2 linked regions of the Homo sapiens genome follow. The protein of the gene in region 1 purifies or fractionates together with the protein of each later gene. This does not show direct contact. Each region holds a gene or a part of one and is shown on either strand. Other genes may lie near its edges.

Region 1 (4,293 bases):
ATGCTTCCACAAGGCACTCCCCAGGGCCCCCAGGGCCTGTCACCTCCTACCTGAGGCTGCAGGACTGGGGCTGTGCATCCTTGGTCACCACTGCTCACTGTCCTGGGAGGCGGTCACCCCAGGCCCTGGCCACATTCATTTAGCCAGTCCCTGCCAGACAATGGCCAGTGTCCGAGTGCTGGCTGTGTAGGGCCTGTGCGGGGGGGTGGCAGTGTGGGCACATGGCCTCTGCAGAGGTAAGGGAGGTGCAGGGGGCCGTCTGCAGCTCGGCTGCCCTCCATATCACCCTCTCCTTCCCCCGCAGGTAAGAATGACGGTTCCATCGGCGGGAAGCAGTACTTCAGGTGTAACCCTGGCTACGGGCTGCTGGTCAGGCCCAGCCGGGTCCGCAGGGCCACGGGCCCTGTGCGGCGGCGCAGCACAGGACTCCGGCTGGGTGCCCCCGAGGCCCGCCGGAGCGCCACCCTCTCGGGCTCCGCCACCAACCTGGCCTCGCTGACAGCTGCCCTGGCCAAGGCCGACAGGAGCCACAAGAACCCTGAGAACCGGAAATCCTGGGCCAGCTGAGCCGCTGCCTTAGGGCGAACTTTTCTGGGGGTGCCCGGCCCCTTTTGAGCCCTGCCAGTGACAGCCCTGAGGAGCCAGGAGCCCGGTGGCCCCTTCCCCAGGGGCAGGGCGATGAATGCTTTTTGCACGACACAGGGCTGGTGACCTCCCTGGGCCTCTGGAAGCTTTGTTTCTTCTGTACCCGGGTAAAGTGGGGGCCTCAACTGTGCCTCCTCAGGTGGATGGAAGGTTCTGGGTGCCCGCAGGGGCTGGGGGATGCTAGGACTGAGACCCTGGGTGGTGCAGCGCCTGGTGATCTTGCTGTGTGCCTGTGCCTGGGGCCTTATGTTGCTCTTTCTATCATTTCCATTCTGGTGGCCCCACTAATGTCTTAACCTAAACCATAATTGTAACCAGTGCCTTTCCTCCCCACTGGAGGGCAAGCCCCCCCACCCACCCAGGATGTCCTGGCTCACTCCGCAAGCCCCCCAGCCTCCCACCCTGGTCCCAGTTTCCCGCAAAGTGCCTCTGGGGGACCCCCCAGCCTCCCACCCTGGTCCCAGGTTCCACAAGTGCCTCTGGAGGGCCCTGGGCTCTGGCAGATGGTCCTGGTGCCCCAGACGGGGGCCGAGGGCCTGAGCCCCCCCATCCCTCCTCTGCCAGGGTTTCTTAGCGGTTTCTCTGTGGATGTTTTGGCATCTTTAGACACCTGGAAAGTCTCTTATGTTTGCCGTTTATTCCCTTCACAGAAGGCTTGGAATGTATTTATTTATATTTATTTTTTCAAAATCCGAAATCATTTGCGAGCCGCAATCGTCGTCTGCCTGTGTGGGGGGGCCCAGGGCCTGCCTTGCACGTTGCAGCCTCTCTGGCCATTGCAGAGCTGCTGGCCTCCTGCCCAGGTGGAGGGTCCTGGGGACGGCAGAGGATAAAGCCCCCTCCTCACATCCCTCTATTGCGGATCCACAGTGGCCTTACTCTTAACTTGGATGAGAGCAAAAACCTGGGAGAATGATGTGCTTCTGTAGTCGGTGACAAAGGAAGAGGCATTGCTACTTTATTTGGTGCACTTTTGGTTTCTAGGAAGGTCTTTGGGTCATTTTAACTTCTCGGCAACTCCCAGACTCTCAGAGTGTGGGGCTGGGGCCTGGCGGCTGGGCTGGTGCAGGGAGTGTGCTGGTTAGTCTCCAGACCCTCACAGCAGCCACGCCCCCAGGCCCACCGTGCATGGTGTGGGCGGGACAGCCGGAAGCTTCCGGGGTGGCCTCCACCTCCTGGCTGGGGCACTTATGCTCCCAGAGCCTTTGGTGCCAGGTTTGTGGGATGGGGGTTAGCGTCTATGTGTGGAAGGCCACCAATCTAGGGACAGGAGTCCTGGGTCAAGATTCACACAGCCACCCTTGGAGCTGGTTTCTAGTTCTCACATTTAGTCAACATCTAGAAAGCGCTGCGGAAGGCTCTGGTTCTCTAGGGACTTGAAGGCGCCAACAGAGTAGTCTCCATGGTGGGCCTGTCCCAGCCCTGGCTGCGAGGACAGGTTGTCTTTCTCTCCCCAGTTGGCGAGGGACACGAAGGCTGCGGCCGGGCTGGCAGAGGGCCCGGCCCCTGGGGGGAGGCACTCCTCCAGGGCTCTCCCTGTCCTTAGCCGATTTTGAGGGAACCCTGTGGCACCTGTCCCTGGATGAAGAGCTGTCACCTCTGCCTTGCCCTTTAACTCAACCCGCTTCCCAGCACAGCGGCTTTCTTTTTAAAACCTGTTTCACTGAGAAGTTTGTTTTTGGGTCCGCTGGTGTCACTATGGCCTGGGTGAGAGGCCAGCACTGCTGCTGCCCTGAGGGGAAACGCCTGGGCCGTGTAGTGGGGACGCTCTGGGAATGGTGGCGGACGGGCAGCGTGGGTGGGACCTGGCACTTCGTGGTGGCTGAGCCATCCACCCAGCAGCGGCCTCCTGTAGCACCATCTTGGGAAAGTCCTGGGGGACGTGTGTGTCGTGCTTTTTACCATCGGTTTGACTTACAGTGGAGTAGAACGAGCCAGAGTTCCTGACTTGAGCAGGTGGATTTGGGCCCAGGCCCTGTTCACTCTTGCTTCTCGGTGCGGACTAATGTCAGCTTGTGGCTGGGAAAGAGGGATGTGCAGTGACGTGGTCACCAAGGCAGTGAGCCCCGCTGACCCCGGGCCAGCACTTGGCAGGCAGGAGGTGCGGTCTCCAGAGTGGTGGGCCAGGGCGGGCTGGCCTCCGTCTTCTATCTTCTTTTCTTGCCTCCCTGACCAGCAGACTCACCTCCCAAGAACGCCTGCCCGCCCACCCGCCTTAGGACTCCCGATGCGCTCCTGGAAGGCCCCAGGAGTGGCACCTTAGTGTGGGTCGGCCCGCAGATGGCACCCAAGGCCGGGAAGGGCAGTAACTGCACACGCGGCGCTGTCAGAGATGGGGGTGGGGGATGCTTCTGGGGGCCCTGCCTCCCCATTGTGTGCCCAGAACATCCCTGGCCCCACCCCGCCACTTCCCTCGGGCCCTTATGAAGGACTGAGGCTCCAGGGTGAGAAGGCTCACTTCTGCCCCGGGCACTGCGTCCAGCAGCAGAGGGGACAGGGGGCAGGTGTGTGACTGGGTTCCTGGGTACCCAGGCCTGACCAGAGGGAGCGGGAGGGCAGAGGTGAGGAGGGGGAAGATGTTTCTGGGCCTACCAAGGTTCAACAAGAGAACGGAGCTGGGAATGTGACTGCTGGAGCCTGAGAGGTGGAGGAGTTCTGATCCCCCGTTACTTCCTAGCATTTTCTCCTCTTGCCTTAAAAGTTCCCTGTATGTGAAACGGGAAGTCCTGAGAGTGTGTGTTGGTGGCTGTGCGCACGCACACAAGACGGGAGTCACCCTGTGCTTCCTGCCCAAGATACTGACCCATTGAACCCCCAAAGCATCTTTCTCTCCACAAAGTCCGTGGTGCCTTCCTGGTGGGCTGCAGACACTAATGGTGTTGGGGGGTCTTGGAACAGCTTCTCTATGTGTGGATTCGTGTAAATGCGAAGAGTTCACATATAAAGAAGTGACTTTGATTCTGTGATTATATTGATTTGGTACACAGTAAATGGGAGTTTAAAAAATCCAAAGACTCTAATGACTTGTAAAGACTCTAATGATTTGTATCATGTAATGAACTAAACCACCTGTAATTTTGTACCGTATGTGTCTTTCCATCAAATGACCAACAGCTTCTCAATAAAACCAGACCATTTCTCACCTGCATCATGTCTGAGGCCAGTCTTGTTGCTTCTCCTTCCCCTCACCCCAACATAGGGTTTTGGGGCTCCTGGCAGGCCATCCTGTCATGGTGTGGCCTTGTTCTCAGCAAAGGTGGTGCGGGGCTTTTCCAGACTGAGACTGGGAGGAGGAGGATCAGGGAACAGCAGCAGGCCGTGCTCGCCTCCCCAGCCCATGGACTTCAGAGGCTGAACTCTTCATGATTTGGACTTAAGAGCCCAGGAGGCCCCCCGGTTCTGAGTCATCTTTCCTTGTTTGGACTTCAGCCCCTTACTGAAGCCAGGAACCATGGAAACTTTCTGGGGCCCTTCGACCCCAGGTAAGTGGTGCTACTGGGAGACAGGTGACCTGGTAGGGACTCTCCTTGGCTCTCAGGCATGACTCCACTGTCTGCTGTGACCTTCGTGTTGGTCCCCACACTGGACCTCCCCTCTCCCCTCAAACTGGGGTGAGAGGACTTCTTTCCCCTGCTGCAGAGGTGGGCA
Region 2 (3,500 bases), on another chromosome or scaffold:
TCATTTCAGCTATAATACTTGTGAGGCCCAGGTGGGCAGATCACTTGGGCCCCAGGAGTTCAAGATCAATCTGGGCAACATAGTGAGATCCCATCTCAAAAAAAAAAAGTGATTAGAGAATACCCTGGTGAAACTGTTGATAATGAGTTTTAAGTGTCTGGCCTATTTATAGCTGAAGAGAATATTGTATGTTACCATTAACTTTGTGATAAATGCCTCTCTGGTCACCAAAACTAAAGAAGACTATCTGTCTTTGTTCTAAATCTGCCTGCATAAACCTGTTTGTTACTTTTTGTTGTTGTTGTTTGCTACATATTTGAGAATATCACCTCTACTATCCAAAAATACTAGCACAGTTCTTGTTAGTATATTATACATATAAATAAATGTGTCCATCAGTGCCCATTCTTTTAAATACAGTTCTTCCCATCACTATTTGACAGCCACAATATAATAAAGATCCTCCAAGTAAAAAAACTGATTTACTCCAGGCTGGGCGCGGTGGCTCACGCCTGTAATCCCAGCGCTTTGGGAGGCCAAGACAGGCGTATCACGAGGTCAGGAGATCGAGACCATCCTGGCCAATATGGTGAAACCTCGTCTCTAGTAAAAATACAAAAAAATTAGCGGGGCATGGTGGCGGGCACCTGTAGTCCCAGCTACTCAGGAGGCTGAGGCAGAAGAATGGCGTGAACCCGGGAAGCGGAGCTTTCAGTGAGCCAAGATCGTGCCACTGCACTCCAGCCTGGGCGACAGAGCGAGACTCCGTCTCAAAAAAAAAAAAAACAAAAAAAAAAAACAACAAACTGATTTACTCCAAACAATGTTTATAAAAACGAGAAACTATGTAGGAAAATGAGTGAGCTTCTAGACCCTATGTCATCTAAATTTGTATATTCTCTGGTCAGTGGTGGCAGAGTTGAAAACCCACTAAACTTAGAAGCTGTTGACTCTCCTAAAGAGGAAATCCAGTCTGCCAGAAACTCTTTTTTTTTTTTTTTTTTTTTTTGAGACAGAGTCTTGCTCTGTCACCCAGGAATGTGGTGGCGTGATCTGGGTTCACTGTAACCTCCGCCCTCCTGGGTTCAAGCAGTTCTCCTGCCTCAGCCTCCCGAGTAGCTGGGATTACAAGTGCCTGCCACTGCACCCAGCTAATTTTTGTATTTTTAGTAGAGACAGGGTTTCACCATCTTGACCTGGCTGACCTTGAACTCCTGACCTCATGATCCACCCACCTTGGCCTCCCAAAGTGCTGGGATTACAGGCGTGAGCCACCACACCCGGCCTCAGAAACTCTTTTTAACAATAAAAAGTTGTTTGACGGTTTGGCCACATAGACTATGTAAACTTTGGAGAACTCATGGAAGTAAGCTTTATTCCTGATCTTACAGACATCTTAGGGGTAGGTTTTGGTGTTTGAAAGGAAAGGAGAATGGCATGAGTGCTATCCATAAAGTTTGGATTAGAAGAGGCCTTAGAGTCCAAGCCTCGTTTATGTGAGAGTCCCTTCCATTACCACCCCCGACAGCTTCTGCTTTCAGCAGTGGTGAGCTTTATAAAATTACCTGTTCTGGCTGGGCGCAGTGGCTCACGCCTGTAATCCCAGCACTTTGGGAGGCTGAGGTGGTCAGATCACTTGAGGTCAGGAGTTCAAGACCAGCCTAGTCAACATGGTGAAACCCTGTCTTTATTAAAAATACAAAAATTAGCCGGGCATGATAGTGCATACCTGTAATCCCAGCTACTAGGGAGGCTGAGGCACGAGAATCGCTTGAACCCGGGAGTCGAAGGTTGCAGTAAGCCGAGATCGCACCACTGCACTCTAGCCCGGGTGACAGAGTAAGGCTCTGTCTCAAAAAAAAAAAAAAAAAAAAAAGAAAAAGAAAAGAAATATTCTTCTCTTAAACCAAAATAATCACAGAATCACAGATCCTAGTCTGGGTCAGGGAAGAGTTAAATACCAGCATGGCCAAGTCAGGCAACATGTCAGGAGGTAGGTGGAAAACAGGCCGTGTGACAGATCCTTTATGAAGATGGATTCAGGCTGATGTGGCCTATATTTGAGCATTAAATAAACAATTCATGTTTGGTCTTATTCTCATATCCCATACCAGTCTTTCAGTCTACCATGAAGCTCATGATGCTACATTTGTTTTAGAAGTAATAGTCTTATTAAGAGCTATAATTATGAATCTAGATAGAAAAACTACATGTTACCTTAAAGCCACATTTTCCAAACAGGAATTCTACCTCAGAGTAAAATTCTATAGTCAAATAAAATTTGAGAAAATCTATAGGCCTGCCCTTCTTGGAGAATCACAATAAATTTTAGCATGCTTAAAAATCAACTGGCCAGTTGTGGTGGCTCATGTCTATAATCCCGGCACTTTGGGAGGCTGAGGTGGGAGGATTGCTTGAGGCCAGGAGTTTGAGACCAGCCTGGGCAACATGGTGAGACCTTGTCTGTACAATAAAAAAATAAATAAAACAAACAAACAAAAATTCAATGGGTGGGTTGTGGTAATTCATGCCTTTAATCCCAGTATTTTGGGAGGCTGAGGCAGGAGGATCACTTGAGACTAGGAGTTTTGGGACCAGCCAGGGCAACATATCAAACTCCATCTCTACAAAAATAATAATAAAACTCAAGGATTCTGTTTTTTCTTTTTTTTTAAGTCGGTTTAATATTGTTTAACCCAGTATTTTTAAATAAAAAAGCCATCTCTGTTCACCTCTTCCCCACACTCTAATGAGAGCTCCTGTGCAGGCTGGGTTTTTTGTTTTTTAAAACAGGGTTTCACTATGTTGCCTGGGCTGGTCTCAAACTCCTGGGCTCAAGTGATCGTCCTGCCTCAGCCTCACAAAGTGCTAGGATTATAGGCATGAGCACTGTGCCTGGCCTGAATGAATCTTAAAAAAAACAAAAAAAGTTGCTTTATTAAAATTTATTATTCAAGCTTGAAAGCTTGAAGAAAAATATAGGAAATAATAAAATATGTATGTGCTTACCACCCAGCTTTCAGTTCCTAATATTTTGCTGTAATTGTTTCAGATCTTTCTTTACAAGGGAGAAGGGGGTGTTCTTAAAAACTGAAAGCCCACTTAGTGATTTTTTTTTTTTTTTGGAGTCAAGGTCTCACTCTGTTACCCAGGCTGGAGTGCAGTAGTGTGATCTCAGTTCACTGCAGCCTCTACCTCCCAGACTCAAGCAGTCCTCCCACCTCAGCCTTCCAAATAGCTGGGACTACAGGCGTGTACCACTACGCCCAGCTAATTTTTGTATTTTTTGTAGAGACGGGGTTTTGCCAAGTTGCCCAGGCTAAGTTGGTGGTTTTTAAAAGGGAGAATAAGGGAAACCTTTTATTTGCTTATAGTGTTACTAACTTTTAAGGATTCACCAAGACCTCTATTTTCAAGAACTGACTTTGTCCTTGCTAGCCCAGTGTCAATCCAAACTTTCCACAGAGGATTTGTTCAACTATGCAGCCTTCCTGTGTCTT

The links. Proteins that work in one complex are often made in the same cells at the same time.
Region 2: the proteins of KIF13B (region 1) and DCP1A purify together in Homo sapiens (affinity purification with mass spectrometry, with the first as the bait; one large-scale study listed by BioGRID). This does not show direct contact.

What each region holds. Positions count from the first base shown.
Region 1 is NC_000008.11:29,066,778-29,071,070, reverse strand, and holds the end of KIF13B (kinesin-like protein KIF13B), read left to right. Parts: intron 1-304; coding exon 305-567; 3' UTR 568-3,793; downstream 3,794-4,293. UniProt on the Homo sapiens protein: Involved in reorganization of the cortical cytoskeleton. Regulates axon formation by promoting the formation of extra axons. May be functionally important for the intracellular trafficking of MAGUKs and associated protein complexes.
Region 2 is NC_000003.12:53,313,044-53,316,543, reverse strand, and holds part of DCP1A (mRNA-decapping enzyme 1A), read left to right. Parts: intron 1-3,500. UniProt on the Homo sapiens protein: Necessary for the degradation of mRNAs, both in normal mRNA turnover and in nonsense-mediated mRNA decay. Removes the 7-methyl guanine cap structure from mRNA molecules, yielding a 5'-phosphorylated mRNA fragment and 7m-GDP.